Homo sapiens: one gene and its partner. The protein of the gene in region 1 purifies or fractionates together with the protein of each later gene. This does not show direct contact. Each region holds a gene or a part of one and is shown in the gene's direction. Other genes may lie near its edges.

The links. The genes of interacting proteins can lie anywhere in the genome.
Region 2: the proteins of ARHGEF7 (region 1) and DNPEP purify together in Homo sapiens (affinity purification with mass spectrometry; one large-scale study listed by BioGRID and IntAct). This does not show direct contact.

Annotation. Positions count from the first base shown.
Region 1 is NC_000013.11:111,275,740-111,279,393, forward strand, and holds part of ARHGEF7 (rho guanine nucleotide exchange factor 7), read left to right. Parts: intron 1-1,847; coding exon 1,848-1,934; intron 1,935-3,654. UniProt on the Homo sapiens protein: Acts as a RAC1 guanine nucleotide exchange factor (GEF) and can induce membrane ruffling. Functions in cell migration, attachment and cell spreading. Promotes targeting of RAC1 to focal adhesions. May function as a positive regulator of apoptosis.
Region 2 is NC_000002.12:219,377,891-219,381,544, reverse strand, and holds part of DNPEP (aspartyl aminopeptidase), read left to right. Parts: intron 1-108; coding exon 109-210; intron 211-3,654.

The DNA of each region.
Region 1 (3,654 bases):
AGATTTTAAAGGCATCTCAAGCGATGAAAAATGTCTAATAGAAGCTCTATCTTATAATTTGTGAGCTACTTTTTATTCTTGACACAGGAGAGAGGCTTATGGCATGTTAGAGAGGCTTAGAGCTGAGTGTGGACTTGTTGATCAGTTTGATCCAGCTGAAGTCAGTGTGGCCCGAAGCCCACGTGAACTGAAGGATAGATAGTGTGCAGAAAGACTTGCAGGAGTCCTGTGCACACATCCGCATGGAGCTGTATGCGCTTATCTGGCCAGCAACTTTGTACCAAGGCTCACTCTCACAGGGACCTGCTGCTCTCAATGCTTTCGGGTCATTATACTTTCCTGTGAAAGTATGCTAGCTGACATATGCTTACAGGAGTCACAGTTTTCTTACAGGTTTGGTTTAAGTGAGAGATCAACCCAGATTTTTGGGACATACCCACCCACACAGTGAAAATCGAGCAGTTTGTTTCATGATTCACATTGACATACATTCAATGGGTCACTGAACAGGCACCTCTTTCTGAATTTTATTCTACCTTTGCAAAAATAACATGATCAAAACATGCGAAATGACTCATTTTTGAACACAAGACTCCAAGGAGAATAAGAAAACTAAAACTTCAAACTTATATAGTGTGTTTTCCTTTCCACCTGTAAAATATCACCCCTTCTACATAGTCTTGTAGTTTGGGTACCATAAGAAACCATGATTATAAAAACTTCACATCTTTTCAGAAGAAGTTTCTTTTTGAGTCATGCTCTTTTAAACTTTAATCTGTGGAAACATTTCCCAAAGTGTGTTCTTTATAATATTAGATCTATACAGCACTGGTGGGTGTTACTCCAAAATGCTTCAGAGTGGTTCTGATCACGACTGAACGTAATTAGTGGAAAAGATTCTTTATGATAGAGCTCCTCAGAGACTTGGCTGTGAATGTTCCCAATGTATGTTGTGATTCTTCAAGAGGGGAATATAGCAAGTCGTTCTCAGTGACTTCTTTAAAGTACGGAAGACTCTTTTCTCAAGGTGCTTTGCATAAGCCTAATGTTCTGAGGAATATACTTGGGGAAACTAATTCCTAGGACTGATTTCACTTTTTTGGGCCGTAGTTTAAATGTCAACATGTGAAAAGGACTGTGGCATTTTTTTGTCTCTTTTTGGATTCTTAGGAACTTTTTTCTTTCACTTATGGTCTCTTTGGCTTTTATCTTACTGAAGCAAATGATTTTTAATACATAAGTAATACTTTTAAGTCTGATGTAAACCAGGTGATGTTTATGGGGTGGATGAAAACAACACTGAGTCGACATTTGGGAGGTTTGGGAAGTGCCAGGAATTACTAGTAGACCAAAATTGATTTTAACATTTTATCCTTTCTTTAGCTTAAAGACTCCACCTGTTCCCCCTGACCCCATTAAAATTTATAGGTTCTCTCCTTTTTCTCTGAACCAGAAAAAGAAAATTTTAGCTTACCTGAAAATAGTTAATCACAGAGCTGAACTCTTTAACCAAATATAGTTTCAAGATGTTACACAGGCTAATTGTGAGTCCAGGATCTTTTAATCAGTCCGTTTACTTTCTTACCTTTTGTTTTTTGAAGAATTTGGAAGTCCTTCTCTTTACCTATATGTTAAAGCTCTCTCATAATCATATGTTAAGACTTAATACAGAATTTATCATAATTGTTTCCATTTAATTTACCTGATAAAACTTGATAGAAATACCTAAACGAGAAATATCATGTAATGTTTCATAGGGCCTAGTATAAATAAGTGAAGTATTTGTGCTCACATTTGTTAAGTAGATGTTTTTTAAGAAATGTTTTGGATTTCTTTTTTTGTATTAGGAAAAGAATGAAAGATATCTTCTACTCTTCCCAAATGTTTTGCTAATGTTGTCTGCCAGTCCTAGGATGAGTGGCTTTATCTATCAGGTAAAACACAATTTAAATTTATATTTTATTGTGGATCTGAGGATAATTTCAAACTGGCTTTGAATTTTGTGTTAAATATTACGTGTATCTATCTGTGTATGTGCTGTGTGTGTAGTGCTGTATATTCAGATATGGACGTACAGCTCCTGTTTGTGTTTCGTTGTGACTGCAAGCATATCCTATGTTAATTTCAAAAAAGGAAAGAAGTGTAAACTGTAGAGCAACCTCATAAGGACACAGACTACTGTGGCACAAGTCAGTCTCTGTCATTGCCTTCTGTCGTTTCATGCAAAATACCTTGCTCCTCCTTGCTATGGTTTTATTCTGTGAAATTGGTTCAAGTAGGGCTTGTGGGTTAGTGGGGTAGTGTAGACTAAGATCTTGTGTCAGTGGCACGGCACCGCCCAAATGCATCAGCAAACAGAAAGTGATGTAAGGGTGTAAGTAGCAGTGTGTGATCGTTGAACCTTTTTAATTTTTGTTTCCCTGCTTCTCTTTGAGAAAATGTGACAGCAGATTTGGGAAGGAGGTGCAAGGGTGAGCAGGGCCTTTTCTGTTGCGACAGTGGTTTATAGTGGTGGTATATGAAGGAGCTGGTATTTTCGCTGTCTGTCTAGTAGATGCACTTGGCAGGTTTCATTCTTCTTTTTCTGGGAAGTTACAGAGGCTCATATCCTTCCCATCAACTTTCTGAGGACTGGCCAGTCACCACGTAACCACTGCAGCAGAAGCCGCCACTTCGTGTTCTCTGGGTTGCATTTCATTGTAGCACGTGTTGTTTTGTGTTGGCGCAGCAAGGACGTTCAAGATCCCTAAGCAGACACTATGCCCTCACAGAGGCTCTGCCGACACCCAGAGAGGACTTGTGGCCATACGCTTACACCAACACACGTGCTTTAGAATTGGTGAATCACATATGTAGGAACAGACTCAGGAAAGTGAGGCTGTAGTTTGTTAGGCCACTGCTGAAGAGAGGTGATCTGTGGCTAGGATAGTGCCCACTACAGTTTCCCCCAAACTAGCAGCTACTTCTGTGTTAAATGACCTTGATAAACCTAAATCTCTGTCCTTTCTGGTCAGCACTATCTGGCTTCCGATTTTATATCCCCAGAATCTCATTCCAGTGGCTGGAGGCAGGGGCCTTCTCTAACCTAAGGAGAGAAGAGGTTGTCACTTGTGGCAGGCTTGAGTCTCTGCCTGTGTGGCTGGTGCTTACACTGGATTTGCCCTTGATGTGTTGACAGACTGCTGGAGCTCATCTCAACAACAGGATTTTATTTTTCCATTCTTAGCACAGTGGTGACCCATGGTCTCTGTATCATTGGTATCCGTTTCTACCATTAGAACACTGGCTTTGGGGGATGCCAAAAAGTGTTCGGTCCAGCCACAGTCATAGTGTTCTATACACCGATGTTCAGAGGGGCTAGGTTAAACACAGTTGTGCGGTTTCATTTTCTGTAGGACTTACAGCTGTTAAAGTACTTATATGCATTACGAATCTTGGAAAGGAGTTCACAGTGTGTAGCATTTTTTAAATACGCTTGGCCACAGAAGTGTCCAGCAGTCTCCTCTTCCACCGGCCATGCTTTAGGATGAGATTTCTCAGCCTGGGCACTGCTGACGTTCTGGACTGGATCGTTCATGGCCAGGGGCTGGGGGTCTCGGTGAGACTGTCCTGGGCACTGTAGGGTATCAGCAGCCTCTCTGGCCCTTACTTGCT
Region 2 (3,654 bases), on another chromosome or scaffold:
GTGAGACGTGCCATTTCTCCCTAGGGACTTGGAGGTCTGGCTGTTCCGAGCGCCGACTCATTCCCTTTGGGCCTGTCATTACCTCTGCCTCACCTTGACTCTCCCCAGGGCCCCGTGATCAAGGTGAACAGCAAGCAACGCTATGCTTCAAACGCGGTGTCAGAGGCCCTGATCCGAGAGGTGGCCAACAAAGTCAAGGTCCCCCTGCAGGTGAGGGTGGGCCCTGCCTGGGAAGGTGTGATGGAGGGAGCTTGGTGGGGGCACAAACAGATGGGCCCCCCATGAACAGGGAACCTGGTAGATGGCCTTGAGTGGAGGGGGGTCCCAGTAGAGTGAGAAAAGCAGGGATTTTGGATACAGCTGGATTCCATGCTGGCTCTGCTGCAGTGCTAGCTGTGTGACCTTGGACTAGTCTCCTAACCTTTCTGAGTCTCAGTTTCCACATCTGTAGAATAGGGGTGATAGTGATGCCTACTTTGCTGGATTTCTATGAAGACTGAAGGTACAGTGTGCTCCTGGCACATGGTAGGCCTGTCTTTCCCTGCAGCACCCCCACTTCCCCTGTGTCTCCTACACACCCTGGGGGCTTCCACAGGGAAAGTTCAGGGCTGGGGAGTATGGAACTCCAACTACTCATTTTCTCTCTTGCCTGAGAAATTAGACATCTAGTCCTTTCTCCTCAGTGTGTGTGTGTGTGTGTGTACATATATATGTTGTATACATGTATGTATATAACACATGACAGTATTGTGTATACACATATACACACATATATACTGTCATGCATTGCTTAACAACAGGGATACATTCTGGGAAATGGCATCATTAGGCAATTTTGTCATTGTGTGAGCATCATGGAGTATATGTACACAAACCTAGACGGACAGCCTGCTGCACACCTAGGTTGTGTGGTGTAGCCCATTGCTCCTAGGCTACAAACCTGTACGGCTTCTTACTGTGCTGAAAACTGTAGGTAACTGTAACAAAATGGTCAGTGTATCTAAACATAGAAAAGGTACAGAAGGCCAGGCGTGTTGGCTCACACCTGTAATCCCAGCATTTTGGGAGGCCAAGACAGGCAGATCACTTGAGGTCAGGAGTTCAAAACCAGCCTGGCCAACATGGTGAAACCCCATCCTACCAAAAAATACAAAAATTAGGCAGGCGGAGTGGTGCATGCCTGTAGTCCCAGCTACTTGGGAGGCCTTCCCTACTTGGGAAGGATCTCTTGAGCCCGGGAGGTGGACGTTGCAGTGAGCCGAGATCGTGCCATTGCACTCCAGCCTGGGCGACAGAGTGAGACCCTGTCTCCAAAAAAACAAAACCAAAAAAAAAAAAAAAAGAAAAGAAAAAGAAAAGTTACAGGAAGCATATGGTATAAAAGATTTAAAATGGTCCACCTGTATAGGGCACTTAGGAATGGAGCTTACGGCACTCGAAGTTGCCCTGGGTGAGTGGTGAGTTAATGTGAAGGCCTAGGACATTACTGTACACTATTGCAGACTTTATCAATGCCGGACACTTAGGCTACACTACATTTATTTTGAAAATTGTATTTCTTCAACAATAAATTAGTTTACTGTAACTTTTTAACTTTATTTATTTATTTATTTATTTATTTATTTTTGAGATGGAGTCTCACTCTGTCACCCAGGCTGGAGTGCAGTGGCACGATCTCGGCTCACTGCAACCTCTGCCTCCCAGGTTCAAGCGATTCTGCCTCAGCCTCCTGAATAGCTGGGATTACAGGCACGCACCACCATGCCTGGCTAATTTTTGTATTTTTAGTAGAGACGGGGTTTCACCATGTTGGTCAGGCTGGTCTCGAACTCCTGACCTTGTGATCCGCCCGCCTCGGCCTCCCAAAGTGTTGGGATTACAGGTGTGAGCCACTGCACCCGGCCAACTTTTTTACTTTATAACCTTCCATTTTTAAAATTTTTGACTCCTTTGTAACAACAGTTGGCTTAAAACACAAACACATAGTACAGCTATTCAAAAGTATTTTCTTTTTTGTATCCTTATTCTGTAAGCTTTTTTCTATTTTTAAAATTTTTCGTTATTTTTAAAATTTTTAAACTTTTTGGTTAAAAACCAAGACACAAACATACACATTAGCCTAGGCCTATACAGGGTCAGGATTATCAATGTCCCTGTCTTCCACCTCCACATCTTGTCTCACTGGAAGGTCTTCAGGGAGAGTGACATGCAGGGAGCTGCTATCTACCATGATAACAATGTGCTCCTAAAGGACCTGCCTGAGGCTGTTTTACAGTTAACTTTTTTTTTTTTTTCTAATAAGTAGGAGTACATTCTAAAATAACAGTAGGCTGGGCATCGTGGCTCATGCCTGTAATCCCAGCACTTTGGGAGGCCGAGGCGGGTGGATCACTTGAGGTCAGGAGTTCAAAACCAGCTGGCCAACATGGTGAAACCCCGTCTCTACTGAAAATACAAAAATTATCTGGGCATGGTGGTGTGCGCCTGTAATCCCAGCTACTCAGGAGGCTGAGACAGGAGAATCGCTTGAACCCAAGAGGCAGAGGTTGCAGGGAGCCAAGATGGTGCCATTGCACTCCAGCCTGGGCGACAAGAGTGAAACTCCATCTCAAAATAAATAAATAACAATAAAAAGCATAATATAGTAAACACATAAACCATAACATAGTCATTTATTATTCTTAGGTATTGCATACTGTACATAATTGCACGTGTTATGCTTTTATACGACTGGCAGTAGATTTATTTACGCCGGCATCGCCACAAACAAGTGAGTCATGCATTATGCCACAACATCGCAACAGCTGTGATGTCACTAGGCGACAGGAATTTTTCAGCTCCATTATAATCTTACGGGACCACTGTCATATGTAGTCTATCTTTGACTGAAATGTCACCATGTAGTGCATGACTGTCTATTTCTATATTTATCTGTCTACCTCTCTATATCAGGGACTCAGGCATGGGCGGTCCAGTGACAATCATAGCAGGTGTAGAACCGTGGTATCCTGACTCCCAGCCCAGGGCTCTTTCTGCTGCACAGTGTTCACTCTTCCTTTCGGAAAGCTGAATTGTTCTGCCCCCAGGAAGCCTTCTCTGAGGACGTGATATTTGAGCTGAGACCTAACCACTGAGAAATAGGCAGCTATGGGAGGGTCCCAGCCAGAGGGCACAAGTAGAAAGGCCCCAAGGGGGGCCAGGAATGAGCTCGTCTTTTAGGAGGAGAGAAAGGCAGGATGGTAGAGCCAGGATGAGAGCAGGAGAGGGTTAGGGGAGAGGCCCAGCTCAGTGATGATACAGGAATACCTAGGCCATGGAAGGACATTTCAATTTTATTCTAAGGCAGTGAGAAGACATTGGGAGATTTTTCTTTAATAATTTACAGCAGAAGTAGGACACATGTATTTTAGAAAATTAGAAAATACAGATAGAGATGAGAAAATAAAACACTAATCTGCAGAAATTTGGTATAGTCTTCCAGATTTTTTTCTATGCATAAACTTCATATACACTTTTTTAAAATGATATTATATTGGATATATTTTTGTTGCCTCTTTTCACTCAGTCATCTTCACCTTTCTATTTGAGTTTGGTTTTTTTTTTTAATGTTTTTTTAAAATTAGAAACAGGGTCTTGCTTTGTCTCCCAGGCTGG